2 separate regions of the Homo sapiens genome follow, and region 1 is linked to region 2. The links come from fine-mapping of genetic effects on gene expression. Tissue or cell type: fibroblasts. Region 2 holds a variant in brackets; the other region holds the start of a gene. All regions are shown on one strand. Distances are from middle to middle.

Region 1 (8,103 bases), 34 kb before region 2:
TAGAGATGAGATTTAACCATGTTAGCCAGGCTGGTCTCGATCTCCTGACTTTGTGATCCACCCACCTCGGCCTCTTTTTTTTCTTTTTTGAGATGGAGTCTCGCTCTGTTGCCCAGGCTGGAGTGCAGTGGTGCAATCTTGGCTCACTGCAACCTCTGCCTCCAGGGTTCAAGCGATTCTTCTGCCTCAGCCTCCTGAGTAGCTGTGATTACAGGCACGCACCACCACGCCTGGCTAATTTTTGTATTTTTAGTAGATACGGGGTTTCACCATGTTGGCCAGGCTGGTCTCGAACTCCTGACCTCATGATCTGCCCACCTCAGCCTCCCAAAGTGCTGGGATTACAGGCATGAGCCACCAAGCCCAGTCCGATCACGAACGTTTTTTAAAGCCTGCTACCTTTTTTTGTCCAGTTGACAAGGGCTAACCATAGTGCTGGCCACATATCAGTCAATCAAGTAAATATGGACACAGTGGAGAAATGGTGTTGTCACACCAAACCGTTTGTGGTGTTCATTCAAATGGGACGGACTTGTATTATGTGCACCAGAATTGAACTTCCAAGTTGGCTGCGTGCAATGTAAGCCCTACCCAACAACTTGAAGGCTTGTTTTAGTCACTAAGGATGTTTACCCACAGTGACTCTCAACTGATTCTAGAAAGAACACACCCCCCACATACATACACATACACACACACACACACACACACACACACACACACACACACTAGGGCACTTACTCGCATGGTACCACGTCTCAGAGCTCATTAAAAAGAATTCCTGGCCGGGAGCAGTGGCTCATGCCTGTAATCCCAACACTTTGGGAGGCTGAGGCGGGTGGATCACAAGGTCAGGAGTTCGAGACCAGCCTGGCCAACATGGTGAAAACCCCCCTCTACTAAAAATATCAAAACTAGCCAGGTGTGGTGGCGGGTGCCTGTAATCCCAGCTACTCGGGAGGCTGAGGCAGGAGAATCGCTTGAACCTGGGAGGCTGAGGTTGCAGTGAGCCGAGATCATGCCACTTGCACTCCAGCCTGGGCAACAGAGCAAGACTCCGTCTCAAAAAAAAAAAAAAAAAAAAAAAAGAATTCCTAAGCTAGCCACACTTAGGTTTATTCTCTAGTCTTCTGTTCCCAAACCCTGAATACATGTTCCTTGGAGGAAACAAGCAGCAACCAGATGTCCAAGGTCTCCTGAGTTAACTCCGTCTTCCCTGGTGAATTACAACTTATTGCAGACACAAAGGAGAACAGAGAGACAAATGACACATAAACAGGAGCTTCACTGGCTGGGGGAGGGGGGCATGGAGAGTGACGTCAGTTTTCCCAGAAACCCATTTATCACGATAACAAGGTCTCGAGTGCTTAGGCTGCTCTTTCAGCTTCAGAATCTGGCGTACAATTATGTTCTTCATCATACAGTATGGCAAGGCCAGCCAGAGCAAACTGGAGCCATGCAAAGCAAACCAAGTGGCCCTAAAGCACCCCCTCACCCCCATCTGCAGAACAAAGGGCATCTCTAGGTTGCCTGAGTTGTGCCTGAGGTGAAACACACACAACCTTCTGGAATGTTCCCCATTGCAACATCTGCCCTGCAATCCTAATCCAGGCAAGAGAAACTGGTGAGAGTATGGAGGACAGGTCGATGCAAATTCATTAGCTGACATGAAAAATCATTAGCGTCATTTTTGGATGGAGCTAGTGTAATCCCAGAGATTAATTCCTCTACTTCAGCTATACCATCTCTGAAATGCAGGTAACCAGGAGCAGAAAAGCCACAGCAGAAAAGAGGGAGCCCTCAAAACACTAAAGCAATAAACAACGAGAGTGCCAATCTTGGGGGAAGAAAATTCTCTCAAATTGCATCATCACAGAGAATGTCCCCTGTCTACTCCTGGTCCTTCCACAACATGACTGCATAAAGTGCTCTGTGCTAGGGTGTGCAGGGGGTGGAGGAGGTTCCGAAGAAATGATCCTGCCCTTCCAAACAGGGACAAAAGAGACATTAATACATATTCTGTAGAGAAAATATTATCAGATTCTGGCTTCAGATTTTGTAAAATCAATTTCAATTACACCAAATACCTAGAGGCTTTTTTTTTGTACTGTAGTTGCATTGCATGAACTATTTTCCTAAATAAGTAAGCTACAAGGTTGAAAAACATTTTTATGTGGTTCAGAGATTTTCGTCAAGTAGTATGTGGTGTCATGGGATTTGACCTACCTCTGTCTCCCACTCCTTCCTCACCTCGGGGTGCTGGTGGGCTTATTAAAGTCCCAGATACCCATGGATGAATAGAATAGCTAGGGTGTCCCCCCCAAATGGAATTCATCGCCCTTTGCAACCAAACTTCTGGTTTAAAAAACAAACATGGAGCCTCAGGTCACTTCAACATGGTTTCTCTGCACATCCCAGGCTGGAAAACTTCAGTTCTTTAAATGAAGATTTTTTTTTTCCCAGAGTCGGTCGCCAACAAAAAAAGAGACGGCACCGCTTTTGCGAGTCTCACACTTATTTTCCTGAGTCTCCATAGAAAGAAGCCAGCTCCACAGGTTTTGGCACACAAGCCCAGTTACACTGAACATGCACCCGAGACAGATCCTCAGAGGCCCGCTCCAAAACATGCCAAAATACGCAGCCAGCCACCTACAGGCCAGCCAACTGCACCCCACACTGACGCACAAATGAGACCCAGAGGCACACAGCACAAGCAGACAGAGAGGCGTTCGGACACACACCACAGAGGTGAGCACACTCAGAGAAACACGCGGACTTCTTTGGGTCACAGACAGAACCCCGGCGCCGCCGCCGCCCGCCCGGGAAGACACGAGCGCGCGCGCGTGCACACATACGCGCACACCGATACACACACAGACGCAGTCACATATGTAATGCATATAGAGAAACCCTATCCCAGCCAGTCACCTCCCCGCCCCCCTCGCCACTCACCGCCTTCTGCCCCAGGCTAACCCCAGCCCCGCGCCTCTTTGCCTGTGCGGTCCCGGGTCACAACGGGCAGCCGTGCGCAGGGGCGCGGCAAGGCCAGGGTGCCAGGGACCCGGAGGGCTCGGCGGCTCCTACGGCCATTCATTCGGCAACGCCCCAGCCGTGGGGCCGCAGCTGCAGCGAGGGAGGCGGTGGCGCTCACTGCGGCTCTTGGGCAATGCAAGTTCAGCCGCCGGCCCGCAGGTTTTGCCTGCCCCCCTGCCGCCCCCCGCCCCCCGCGCGCCACCACCGTTTTCCGGGACAGGCTGAGGGACTGAGCTGCTGACCCCGGGAGCAGAAGTCCCACCGTGCCCTTGGCTCCTGGATGCTGCCCACTGCCCTCCTCGCGATGTGGCGGCGGCGGCCAGGTCTCCTTGACCCTCACCAGGCCCTCGGCCCCGGCCCTGGCACCCAAGCTCTGCACTTACCACCTGGCGAGCTATATCGGTCGCTGCCATCGCTCCTGCGTCCGCCAGGGCTGCCACGGGTGCCGCCGCAACGGGAGCTACTGCACAGGAAACAGAGGAGCTCCTCCGACAAAGAGAAAGTGTTACACTTCGGGCGCGACCAAGTCCGGTGGGGGGAGGTGCAAGGGAGGGGCCCCCTCGCCGCTGCTCCAACCCCAACCTCCCCTCTACCGCCCACCCCTTGAAAGTAGGGTATGGAGAGGGGGCGGATTTAACGCGCCGCTTCCCCCTATGGCCAGACCAGTTCCAGTTCTTCCTGCAACCCCAGCCATAGGCTTCTACGAAGGGGGGCGGGGGCTCCCCTCGGTGACCACGTCCTCTGCCCCCCCCGCCACTTGGCTCCGTGGTACGTCCCGACCTCTGCTGAATTGTCACACCCCCCTGCTCTCCTTTACATCCCTAAGTCCCCAGACCCCGAAGGCTGGAAGGGAGCCCCCGCCCCTCCCCCCTCCCATACTCTGCTCAGCGGCCGAGCTCTGCAGTTCTCCTCCCGGCCCCCGTTACCCCCCTTCCTTTCCACCGAGATCCCAAGGTGCTTAGATGGGTGCGCCTTGGCCGCTGGAGTCTCGATGCCCCACTGTCGTGTCTCCCTCCCTCCATGGCCCGGGAGCGCAGCTGCGGCCGAGGTACCGGGGAGGCCTGCGGCACCTGCCGCTCCACAGTAGAGCTTAGAAAGGGGGCCCGTGGGGGGAGCCGCACTGCAGCCCGGCAACTGAGCTGAGCTGTGGCATGTGGGGTCCGAGGCTAGAGGTCTTGAGACGCTGCTTCTGCCCTGGGGTTTCCAAGCCTTGGGTGCTGTGGGCTGTAATTTCGTGGAGCCAAGCTCACCACCTTTGGGTACCTAGTACAGACGGAACCCACGCCTCCTCTCTCCGACCCAGCCCTAGACGCTCAGCAAGACCACCCACCCCTTCTAGTACCAGAGGAAGGGCTGGAGATGAAGGTTCTCAGCTCTATGGAGCGAAATGGAGGGGCGGGTGACGGGGAGCGGCCTCCAGTCACTCTGTCCCGCCCCCTGATTTCTCCTTGACCCTCATTCAGCCCGGGACAAGGCGGCCAATAGGGCGCAGAGGAGAGAACTTCCGAAGGCAGGGGTGCGCCCGCCCGCCCTCCTTATCCCCGTGGCCCACCTCCGCGGGTCCTCTCTCGTGGGCACCTCTCCACTTCTCCGGCCTTGGCGCCCTCCCCTCTCTCTTGGGACTGGCCTCTTGCTAGCTCCCTGTCACTGGAGCACGCTGGCAGATTTGGCATGCCCGAGGCCCCAGCGGGAGGGACAGTACATTCCACTCCTCAAAAGGGCAGGTTCCCTGGTGTGGGAGAGAGACCTGGGCCCGCCAGAGGGACCCCAGATGGGGGAGGGGATGACAAGGCTATGGAGGAAACCCGGGCCCAAGAGGGGGCCCCAATGGAGCATGGAAGATGACCCCGTAAAGGCCCAAGGCTGGAGCAGCTGAGGAGGAGGCAGGAGAGAGGGAAAAAGAAAAGAAGGAACCAGGGAGAGAGAGGAAGAAGGGACTCGATCCAGAGGCCCTGGTCTCGGAGAAGTCAGGGAAGACAAGAAAATGGAGTAGCCAAAGAAGAGCATGCCTGGCACTTGGTTCCACCTGCTGGATGGAGCTTCTCACACTCTCTCGGGAAGCCCTTTATGTATGTACCCTGTGCGCCTGGAGAACAAGGACTCAGCAAACGCATCCCAGGGCCGAGTGCAGGGCCTCGCAGTCAGGAGGCACTCTATTAAGCTGAGGGCAGAGAACTTGGATGCGTGCGAGGGGGGCGGGGAGAAGAAAGAAGAGACACAGTGAGGGAATAGCAGTAAGGACAGTCATGAAGAGCCAAGTATTCAGGGAGCGCCACTGTGCGCCTTCATTGTGCTGGAGACCCAGGAGCGGCCTAAAGAGAAGAGCCTGGCAAAATCAGGGATCAGCGCAGAGGAGCTCCGCGAGACAGAAGGCGCAGGCCATAGGGCGGATGGCGGTGGCAAGGAAGAGGGGCAGCTGGAGTCTTTCAGACTCTCTGGAGCTTTGGGGCAGGGCCTGAGCCCTGGACTGGGTTGGCAGTGACACGGGGGACCAGTGCTATATCTGAGGAACCACGGTGAGGCTTGGGCCCCAACCGCATGGGGGCGGGGAGTCAGAGGTGACTGGCGGCTTCCAGGCTGGGTGTCTGGGACAGGGCTCTTCCCTGGCAAAGGCTAGGGCGTGGTGGACTGAAAGGCCCCGAGGTCACTAGCCCCGATCTGGACTTGGGGTTTGGGTGGTGGTGGGACAAAAGGGGAGAATTTGGAAGCCAGAGCAGAAAGCTGCTGCCGGAACGGGAGGGGACTGGAGGGCTGCGGGTCTCCCGGGAGAATCCCCCACGCACTGCCCCGCCCGCCTTAGCACTCCTCGCGGACTGAAGCTCCGTACTTACCGGCCCAGCGCTGGGGGCACCTGAGCACGGAATCCTTGGTGTCTCATCCATATGCCCCATTCGGCCCTCCTGTCCCTAGAGACTACCAGAACCTCACTGCGTCCTCCTCCTCCAAAACGCTGAACCTCGAAGACCTGAACTAAGTGCTTAATTCAAGTCTCCTGGGACCCTTTGGTTCCTCCAATACCTGCCCACCTGCGGCTACAAGTCCCTCCTGGGGCCTGGGCCTCCAGCCTCCTTCGGTGGGGTGTGGGTCAGTGTGTGTGTTGGTCTTGATGTGTGAGTAGATGTGTCGGTGTGTTCGTGTGTATTGTCAGTGTGTGCTAGCTGTGTGTCTGTATATCTGTGTGTCAATGTGTGTGTTGGCATGTGTTGGTGTGTCAGTGTATTTCAATGCATGGTGAGTGTATGTGTGTCAATATGGAGAGAGGTGTTAGCTCACTAGCTTTACATACCTTATCTCACTCAGTGCAGTGGGCCGACGACTGAGACGTGTGAATCAGAACATTCATTTCAATAAAGAGGTTTGGAAACTCTCTGGGATCATGCCTTTCTTTTTTTTTCCTTTTTTATTTTTTTTTTGAGACGGAGTGCTCTGTCATCCAGGCTGCAGTGCAGTGGCGTGATCTCTACTCACTGCAACCTCTGCCTCTTGGGTTCAAGCAATTCTCTGCTGCAGCTGGGACTATAAGCGCCCACCACCACGCCCAGCTATTTTTTTTTTTTTTTTTTTTTTGTATTTGCAGTAGAGACAGGGTTTCACCATCTTGGCTAGGCTGGTCTTGAACTCCTGACCTCGTGATCCACCTGCCTCGGCCTTGCAAAGTGCTGGGATTATAGGTGTGAGCCACCGCACCCGGCCTGAAATCATGCCTTTCAGTCTTTGTCCCGGGTCACCTTCCCAAGAACAGGGGAGATGGAAGGGCTGAGGAGGCAAGAGGGCTCATGAGTGGTCAGTTCGTGAGTTTTCTTCCTTGAATGTCTGTCCTCGTTGATGAGTGAAGCCAAAAGATTCCCCTTTATGAAGAGTCATTTGGGACTCCCGGGCGCTTCCATGAACATGTATGTGCTCATGTTTGATGTTTCCTTGTGGGGTCCCTTGGGCCCAGCATGGTGTCTGGCAGGTGTTCAATCAATGTTTGTTGAGTAAAGGAATGAACAGAAGCATGTAAATGAGGTGGCTTCAGTATTTCCATGTCCTTAAAGAAGCTGCAACAAACAGAGACTTCCCAGGGGCAAGCAGGTGGCTGTCATTAGCATGCCAATGTTTGTGGAGCCAGACTCTACTGCCTGGGAGCAGAAATGGCTACCCCTGCTAGATAAGAGTGGGCCCTAATTGGAGCCCAGCTTTCCACAGGTCACTGCTGGAGTTGGGGGTGCTAATACTGGATAGAGGAGCAGCAAGCAACTCAGGGGCAGGGAGGGAGAAGAGGGCACTGAAATGGAGCTAAGAGGTCAGGAAAGGGCTTTGTCCTGAAACTGTGGCTTTGTGATAGGAGAACGAGAAAGATGGTAGAGTCAGTCTCAAGTGGAGAAGCCCTGAGAACCATCTGAAAAATAAGATCAGAAAGTTGGAGGAGGGGCCGGGCGTGGCGGCTCATGCCTGTAATCCCAACATTTTGGGAGGCTGAGGCAGGTGGATCACTTGAGGTCAGGAGTTCGAGACCAGCCTAGCCAACATGGTGAAACCCCCGTCTCTACTAAAAATACAAAAATTAGCCGGGTGTGGTGGCGCATGCCTGTAGTCCCACCTACTTGAGGCAGGAGAATTGCTTGAACCTGGGAGGTGAAGGTTGCAGTGAGCCGAGATTGTGCCACTGTACTCCAGCCTGGGTGACAGTGCGAGACTCCATCAAAAAAAAGAAAGGGAGGGGGAGAGAGAGAGAGAAAAGAAAAGAAAAGAAAAGAAAGAGAAGAAAGTTGGAGGAGGAAGACAAGGTGAAGCAGGGAAAATGATCCGGGATTCACCAAATCCAGACAGTGCCAATTAAATCAGAAACTCTGTGAAGGGGCTGAGTCAAAATGAACTAAAGATCCCTTTCCTCAATTCTGCATTATCACCTGCTGCCCCTGGTTTTGCTTTAGTTTCTTTCCAGTGTTTCTTAAAATGTGGCCTTTGAAGCATCAGCAGCATATGGGAAGTTATAAAAAATGCAAATTATTGGGCCCCACCCGAGACCTACTGAATCAGAACTTCTAGGATGGGACCCAGGAATCTGTATTTTAACAAGTGCTCCAG
Region 2 (8,103 bases):
CCTGAGTGGCAGAAAAAGACCTTGTCTCAAAAAATAAAAATAAAAAATAAAAAATTAGGATATTAGTTGTATTAGGCCATTCTTGTGTTGCTATAAAGAAATACCTGGAACTGGGTAATTTATATAAAAAAAAAGAGGTCTTATTGGCTCACAATTCTGCAGGCTGTACAGGAAGTGTGGCACTGGCATCTGCTAGGCTTTGGGAAAGCTTTAGGGAGCATTTTAACTCGTGGAAAAAGGCAAAGTGGGAGCAGGTGTCTCACATGGCGGGAGCAGGAGTGAGGAAATAGAAAGGGCAGGGGAAGGTGCCACACTTTACAACAACCAGATCTTGTGAGAACTCACTATCACGAGGACAGCACCAAGCCATGAAGGGATCCACCCCATAACCCAAATACCCCACCAGGCCCCACCTCCAACATTGGGGATTAAAATTCAACATAAGATTTGGGTGGGGACAAATTTCCAAATTATTTCATTAATTAAATAAATCAGGGTAGGGCGTGGTGGCTCACGCCTGTAATCCCAGCACTTTGGGAGGCCGAGGCAGGCGGATCATGAGGTCTGGAGTTCAAGACCATCCTGGCCAACATGGTGAAACCCTGTCTCTACTAAAAATACAAAAAATGAGCCAGACGTGGTGGCATGCACCTGTAGTCCCAGCTGCTCGGGAGGCTAAGGCAGGAGAATCCCTTGAACCTTGGAGGCGGAGGTTGTTGCAGTGAGCCGAGATCACACCACTGCACTCCAGCCTGGTGACAGCGCGAGACTGCATCTCAATAAATAAATAAATAAATAAATAAATCGTGGTGCATTCATACAATAGAATACTGTGTGGCCTTTAAAAATGATAATGTAAATTGTATTTATTGATGTGATTAGATGTTCATGATAGAATCTTTAGTAAAAATAGGCAGTTACTAAAAAGTATGATGGGGCCAGGCGCAGTGTCTCACGCCAGTAATCCCAGCATTTTCAGAGGCCAAGGCGGGCAGATCACCTGAGGTCAAGAGTTCGAAACCAGAGCTGGCCAACATGGTGAAACCCTGTCTCTAATAAAAATACAAAAATTAGCCAGGTGTGATGGTGGGTGCCTGTAATCCCAGTTACTCAGGAGGCTGAGGCAGGAGACTCGCTTGAACCCAGGAGGGGGAGGTTGCAGTGAGCCAAGATCGCACCACTACACTCCAGCCTGGCAACAGAGCAAGACTCCATCTCAAAAAAAAAAAAAAAAATTTTTTTAAAGTATGATAGTAAGATACTAGGTCTTCTATTTTAATAGTATGTAATATTGATATATAAATGCATAAAAAAACTGCAAGGATAAATACAAAGCTATTTACTATGAGTTGTTTTGGAGGTCCTTAATATTTTACTCTACATGATTCTATATCATCTTAAAATTTTGCGAGGCCATGGTGATACACACCTGTAATCCCAGCTGCTTGGGAAGCTATGGTGGGAGGATTGCTTGAGCCCAGGAGTTCGAAACCAGTCTGGGCAACAATAGCAAGACCCACCCCCCTCTTAATTAAAATATTTTTTAAAGTATTTTATGAAGATGTACTCATAAGCTGGGCGCAGCGGCTCACGCCTGGAATCCCAGCAGTTTGGGAGGCTGAGGCAGGCAGATCACCTGAGGTCAGAAGTTCGAGACCAGCCTGACCAACATGGAGAAACCCTGTCTCTACTAAAAATACAAAAAATTAGCCCGGTGTGGTGGAGCATGCCTGTAATCCTAGCTACTCAGGAGGCTGAGGCAGGAGAATCCCTTGAACCCAGGAGGCGGGGGTTGTGGTGAGCCGAGATCGCGCCATTGCACTCCAGCCTGGGCAACAAGAGCAAAACTCCGTCTCAAAAAAAAAAAAAAAGAAAGAAAGAAAGAAAATGTACTCAGGTATCATTGCATAATTGAAGAAGTTTTAAATCAAAAAAAGGAAAAGATAGAATACCAATAGTAAATATGTGTATATGACCATACGTATATGTGCTGTAGGTAAATATACATATAAGAAGGATCAGCCAGGCACGGTGGCTCACACCTGTAATCCCAGCACTTTGGGAGGCCAAGGCAGGTGGATCATCTGAGGTCAGGAGTTCGAGACCAGCCTGGCCAACATGGTGAAACCCCATCTCTACTAAAAATACAAAAAATAGCCAGGTGTGGTGACACATGCCTGTAATCCCAGCTACTAGGGGGTGCTGAGGCAGGAGAATTGCTTGAACCCGGGAGGCGGAGGTTGCAGTGAGCTGAGATTGCGCCACTGCACTCCAGCCTGGGCAACAGAGCGAGACTTGTCTCAAAAAAAAAAAAAAAAAGCATCTGGCCAGGAGCAGTGGCTCACCCCTGTAATCCCAGCACTTTGAGAGGCCGAGTCAGGCGGATCACTTGAGGCCAGGAGTTGAAGACCAGCCTGGCCAACATGGTGAGACTTCGTGTCTACTAAAAATACAAAAGAAACTAGCCAAGCATGGTGGTACGTGCCTGTAGTCCCAGCTACTCTGGAGGCTGAGGCAGGAGAATCACTTGAACCCGGGAAGCAGAGGTTGCAGTTACCTGAGATCACACCACAGCATGCCAGCCTGGGTGACAGCAAGATCCTGTCTCAAAACAAAACAAAACAAAACAAAAACAAACAAAAAAAAACAACTAATATGAAGCTCTTAACAGTAGTTGTTCTGGATTGGAGGATTATGGATGATCTTTATGCTCCCTTTTTGCCTGTCTATATTTTCTATAATTAGCATATATTACTTTTGTAATAAGAGAATGTAATCAAGTATATTTCATTTTGAGAAAACATTACAGTGAGAAATAAAGGCCAGGAGAGAAGGACTACTCATGCTGGCTAGCCAGCCCATTATCTCTCAGTAAAGCACACCTACGTGGGAGGCCACATTTTAATCAAGAAGTTGCTTAGTGACCACAGAACCAGAGCAAAGTGCCTAGCTGGATGGCTCTAATGTCGAAAGACAGCAAGCAATGATAGCCTGATGTATCATCTCCACTGCAGTGCTAACCTGCCTGCCCTGAATGCAGACTTTAAAACACCCCAACACACCTAAAGCACCAAGAACCTGCCCTAAGATTGTTTGATCGCATTGCCCTGGATCTTCCTTGCTTGTGTATGACTTACATTCGCCTGACTGTGTCTCTGGCTGACAATAAACTCTCAGCTTCATAGCCTAGCTTTGCATCCGTTTGTGGTCTGGTGTCTGACTCTTTGTTTTAGCATTTGCCCTTGGTCTCCTTGAGGCTTAATTTGCAGCTTCTCTCTAATGAATTTCAGTTTGGACTTGCTCCTTGACTCATCCTGCTAAGCTCCTCTAGTTGCAGGAGCCCGGGTAGGGGCCCTGCCTCTCCTTGTTCCACTGCTGGGCAGGGGTAGGACGTGGGGATTCAGACTTACACCTGACAAGGCTAACTTCAGACACATTTTTTCTTTAGCTTATAACTTTCAGTTAACTTACGATCAATTCTTTTTTTTTTTTTTTTAAGACGGAGTCTCGCTCTGTCACCCAGGCTGCAGTGCAGTGGCGCAATCTCGGCTCACTGCAAGCTCCGCCTCCCGGGTTCACGCCATTCCCAGTAGCTGGGACTACAGGCGCCCACCACCGCGCCCAGCTAATTTTTTTTTTTTTTTTTGTATTTTTAGTAGAGACGGGGTTTCACCGTGGTCTCGATCTCCTGACCTCGTGATCTGCCCGCCTCAGCCTCCCAAAGTGCTGGGATTACAAGCATGAGCCACCGCGCCTGGCCTTTTTTTTTTTTTGAAACAGAGTCTTGCTCTGTTGCCCAGGCTGGAGTGCAGTGGCGCGATCTTGGCTCACTGCAACCTCCGCCTCCCGGGTTCAAGCAATTCTCCTGCCTCAGTCTCCCAACTAAGCTGGGACTACAGGTGCACGCCACAACACCCAGCTAATTTTTGTATTTTTAGTAGAGACGAGGTTTCACCACATTGGCCAGGCTGATCGCGAACTCCTGACCTCGTGATCCGCCCACCTCAGCCTCCCAAAGTGCTGGGATTACAGGCGTGAGCCACCGTGCCTGGCCTTACAATCAATTTCTTATTCTTGGCCCGGCACAGTGGCCCACATCTGTAATCCCAGCACTTTGGGAAGCCGAGGAGAGCAGATCACCTGAGGTCAGGAGTTCGAGACCAGCCTGGCCAACATGGCAAAAATCCATCTCTACTAAAAATACAAAAATTAGCTGGGCGTGGTGGCACTCGCCTGTAATCCCAGCTACTTGGGAGGCTGAGACACGAGAATCGCTTAAACCCAGGAGGCGGAGATTGCAGTGAGCCACGAAGAAAGTGCAGTTATGATGGGGAAGAGGGAGAAACCAGTGGCTGAAGAGGGGCATAATGGGGTTGAGGTGGGGGAGTGTTGGTTTTGTTTTTCAATAGTCTGGAGCAGG[C/A]TTTGAGGCAAGCTAGTTTCAAAGCAGCCTAGGGTGGTGGAAAGGGCTTGAGTTTTTCCTCATCTTGACCATGACAAGCTTTCCTCAGCTTGATCTCATCTCCGCCAGGTGGCAGGGCAGCGAGAGCCCTGGCTCAGGAGCCAGACTGCCTCCGCTCTTAGCCCAGCTCCACACTCCACAGCGTGACTTTAGCCCAGTTATTTGTGCCTCAGTCTTCTTTCAAATGGGCATAATAAGGGTACATACTCCATAGGATTGTCGACCTAAAAAGAAGCAGCTTGGGCAAAATTAATGTAAGTAGAGAGTTTATGTGGGCCAAGCTTGAAGATTGCAACCTGAGAGCAGAAAGTCAAGTTTCCCTGAATGTACACTTCAATTACTAGCAGTTACAGGTGGAGTTTTGAAGGCAAAAGTAGGGGACAAGGAGTGGACTGATGCAAAGTTGTTTGTCAGGAATTCTCATTGATTTACAGAAATAACATTGTTAAGCTACAGACTGTGGGTTGTAGTGTCTGGTGTGGCATTATTGGGTTAATTTATAGCTATTTATGGCAATAGCAAGCAATTTCAAGAGATGAATACACAGTTCAAAGTGGGGAGTAGGGCCTGATTTCAGTCTCATTTTAATGTCTCTCCCGGCCTGACCTGCATTCCTCAGATAAAAATTCTTTTCTCGGGATCATTGTAAGAAGGGAGATAGCTCCCAGCCTGGGCAACATGGCGAAACGCCGTCTCTACAAAAAATACTAAAAAATGAGCCAGGCATAGTGGCAAGTGTCTGTGGTCCCAGCTACTCGGGAGGCTGAGGTGGGTGGATTACTTGAGTCCAAGAGGCAGAGGTTGCAGTGATCTGAGATCGCACCCCTGCACGCCAGCCTGGGAGACAGAGTGAGACCCTGTCTCAAAAAAAAAAAAAAATTGCTCATGCAAAGATGCAAAGTACTTAGAACTGTGGTTGCCTGGCATGGCACATAGTAAGTACCTGCTAGGTGTGAACCGCTATTGTTGTTGCTAGCTATGTGGCCTTGGGCATGTCACTTAACCTCTCACTTTGTCATTCAACCTCTCATTTAACTTCTCATCATTCATCACTTGATTAAGGATTCAAAGTGCCTTTGCCCGTACTAGGTATTCAGCAACACTCAGTTCCCTTGGTTCTTTATATGGTAATAATAGTATTTTACATATGAACACTTACTACACTCCAGGCAGCTCATCTATTACCTTCATCATCCTAGTTAATTATCAAGACAACCATATGAGGAAGTGACATTCGGAAGCAGGTATCCCTAGTTTACAGATGAGGAAACCAGGGTCAAATAGATTGCGATTGGCCCAAGGGCGTATACGAAATGGCTGAGCTGAGATTTTACAATCCTATTTCTTTTTCAAATACTGACACTGGAGTGGGTGATGACCAGTTGTTACTAAATCCAGTGGCTAATCCTTTATTGCTACATGGTTTAAACCGATTGTTGCTGCTAGCTGATGATGAAAGGCTTTGTAGCCTTCCTCCGAGTGGGAACACTTTGCTGCCCCCTTGTGACTCACCAAGTTTCTGCCTCCAGGTTCCCCGTTATTTGAAAAAATAAACAAATAAATAAAAGGCCCGGTGCTGCGACACACGCCTGTAATCCCAGTACTTTGGGAGGCCGAGGCAGGCGGATCATGAGATCAGGAGTTCGAGACCAGCCTGGCCAACACAGTGAAACCCTGTCTCTAATAAAAATACAAAAATTAGCTGGGCGTGGTGGCACGCACCTGTAGTCCCAGCTACTTGAGAGGCTGAGGCAGGAGAATTGCTTGAACCCGGGAGGTGGAGGGTGCAGTGAGCTGAGATTGCACCACTGCACTCCAGCCTAGCAACACAGCGAGACTCTGTCTCAAAAAAAACTTTTTTTTAAAATTAACTATCTTTTCTGGTACAGTAATTTCCCTCCAGAAAAGGTGTTGAGGTGTTGCCTGGGAGAGGCAAGGGAAACATGATTGGAGTTGAATTTTGTTTTGTTTTGTTTTGTTTTAATATAGAGGAGAAAATATAGGTGTCTCTCTTTTTTATTCTTTCTTTCTTTTTTTTTTTTTTTTTTTTTTTTGAGATGGAGTTTTGCTCTTGTTGCCCAGGCTGGAGTGCAATGGTGCGATCTTGGCTCACTGCAACCTCCACCTCCTGGGTTCAAGCGATTCTCCTGCCTCAGCCTCCTGAGTAGCTGGGATTACAGGCATGCGCCACCATGCCCAGCTAATTTTGTACTTTTAGTAGAGACGGGGTTTTTCCATGTTCGTCAGGCTGGTCTCAAACTCCCGACCTCAGGTGATCCGCCCACCTCAGCCTCCCAAAGTGCTGGGATTACAGACATGAGCCACCGTGCCCGGCCTAAATATAGGTGTCTCTTACAGCAACTAGGGGCTTCACAAAGGTGGCGACAGTGGGCTCTGGTCTTGAGGGATGACTAAAAGTTTTCCAGGCAGGCTAGGAAGGGGAAGGACATTCTGAGCAGAGGGAACAGCATGGGCAAAAGCACGGAGATGTGATGGAGCATCTCGGGATTTTAAGCGAGGAGAGCAACATGCTTAGATTCATTCATTCTCTGATTCAACACATATGTGTCACATACTGTGCTGGGTGGTGACAATGACGGTAGTGAAAAACACCAAGTCCCTAAAATTATGGAGCTTACTTTCTAGGGAGGTAGATTTGAAGCAAATGCAAGTACGAGATGCCTCTGGATAAAAACAAAGCAGGGGATGGGAACAGAGAGGGACCAGAGGGTGTTATTTTCAACAGGGTGGTCAGGGAGGCCTTCCCTGAGCAGGTGACATTGGAGCAGGACTGAATGAAGTGGGGGAGCCTGCTTCATGAGTGAACTGGGAAAGATCACACGAGGCAGAGGGAACTACAGGTGCAAAGGCCCTGAGGTGGGAGAGTGTTCGGTGTGATCAAGGAGCCAGAGGCGGGGTGGTGGAGGACTGGAGCATCCTCAGTGCAGGTCGGGGTGGGGATGAAGTTGGTAGGAGAGGGAGGAGGTGAGATTGCAGAAGACTCAGTCATGTTTTCATGGAGGACCTTGTGAGCCATGGCAAGGAGTGGGGATCTCATTCTAAGAAGGGCAGGAAGTGTTTGCTGAGACTGTGTTGAGATGTGAGAGGAAAGAGAGGCATTTAGATGGCTGGCAGATTTTCACCCAAGCAACTAGGAAGACTTCACTATGGATGGGCTAAGTTTGAGAAGCTTATTAGAGCTCCAAGGGGAGCTGTCAGCAGGCTGCTGGACAGCAGCTGGATCTGTGTGTCTGGAATTCAGAGGAAGGATCGGAGCAGCAGGCGTCTGTGCAGAGGGGTCATTGAAAGACCTGGATGAGATGAGATTCTCAAGGGAGCGAGTACATAGAGACAAGTGGACGAGGTCCGAGCCCCATGGCTCCCCAATCTCCAGACTCTAGAGGATGGAGCCAGCAGGACCAGCAGAAGGAAGGCACTGAGGAATGACTGACTGGCTAGGGAGCTCAAAGGAAAACCAGGAGAGCTGGGTGTCCCAGAAGCCAAGGGAAGCAGGAGTTGCAAGGAGGATGGGGTGATCGACAATGTCCAATGCTGCTGAGAGGGTCCAGTAAGGTGAGGACTCAGACCCAACTGCTGGATTTGACAGCATAAAGGGAGGGCATGGATGACCTTGGTACACTCTA

What was found. PIP is the estimated chance that this variant, and not a neighbour inherited with it, causes the effect.
Region 1: it holds the start of SEPTIN6, and the variant in region 2 is fine-mapped to the expression of SEPTIN6 in fibroblasts (GTEx, PIP above 0.99).

Annotation. Positions count from the first base shown.
Region 1 is chrX:119,689,660-119,697,762 of GRCh38, forward strand. It overlaps SEPTIN6 (septin 6), which reads right to left and starts at 3,509. Exons shown (of 11, transcript NM_145799.4): 1 at 3,417-3,509. The coding sequence starts at 3,446. RefSeq lists enhancers at 2,523-2,572, 3,393-3,522, 7,071-7,130 and silencers at 3,063-3,192, 3,703-3,752.
Region 2 is chrX:119,724,149-119,732,251 of GRCh38, forward strand. No RefSeq gene overlaps it. Among named protein-coding and RNA genes, the nearest start is that of SOWAHD, 30 kb to the right of the region's middle. The variant C/A (reference allele first, on the strand shown) is at 4,421.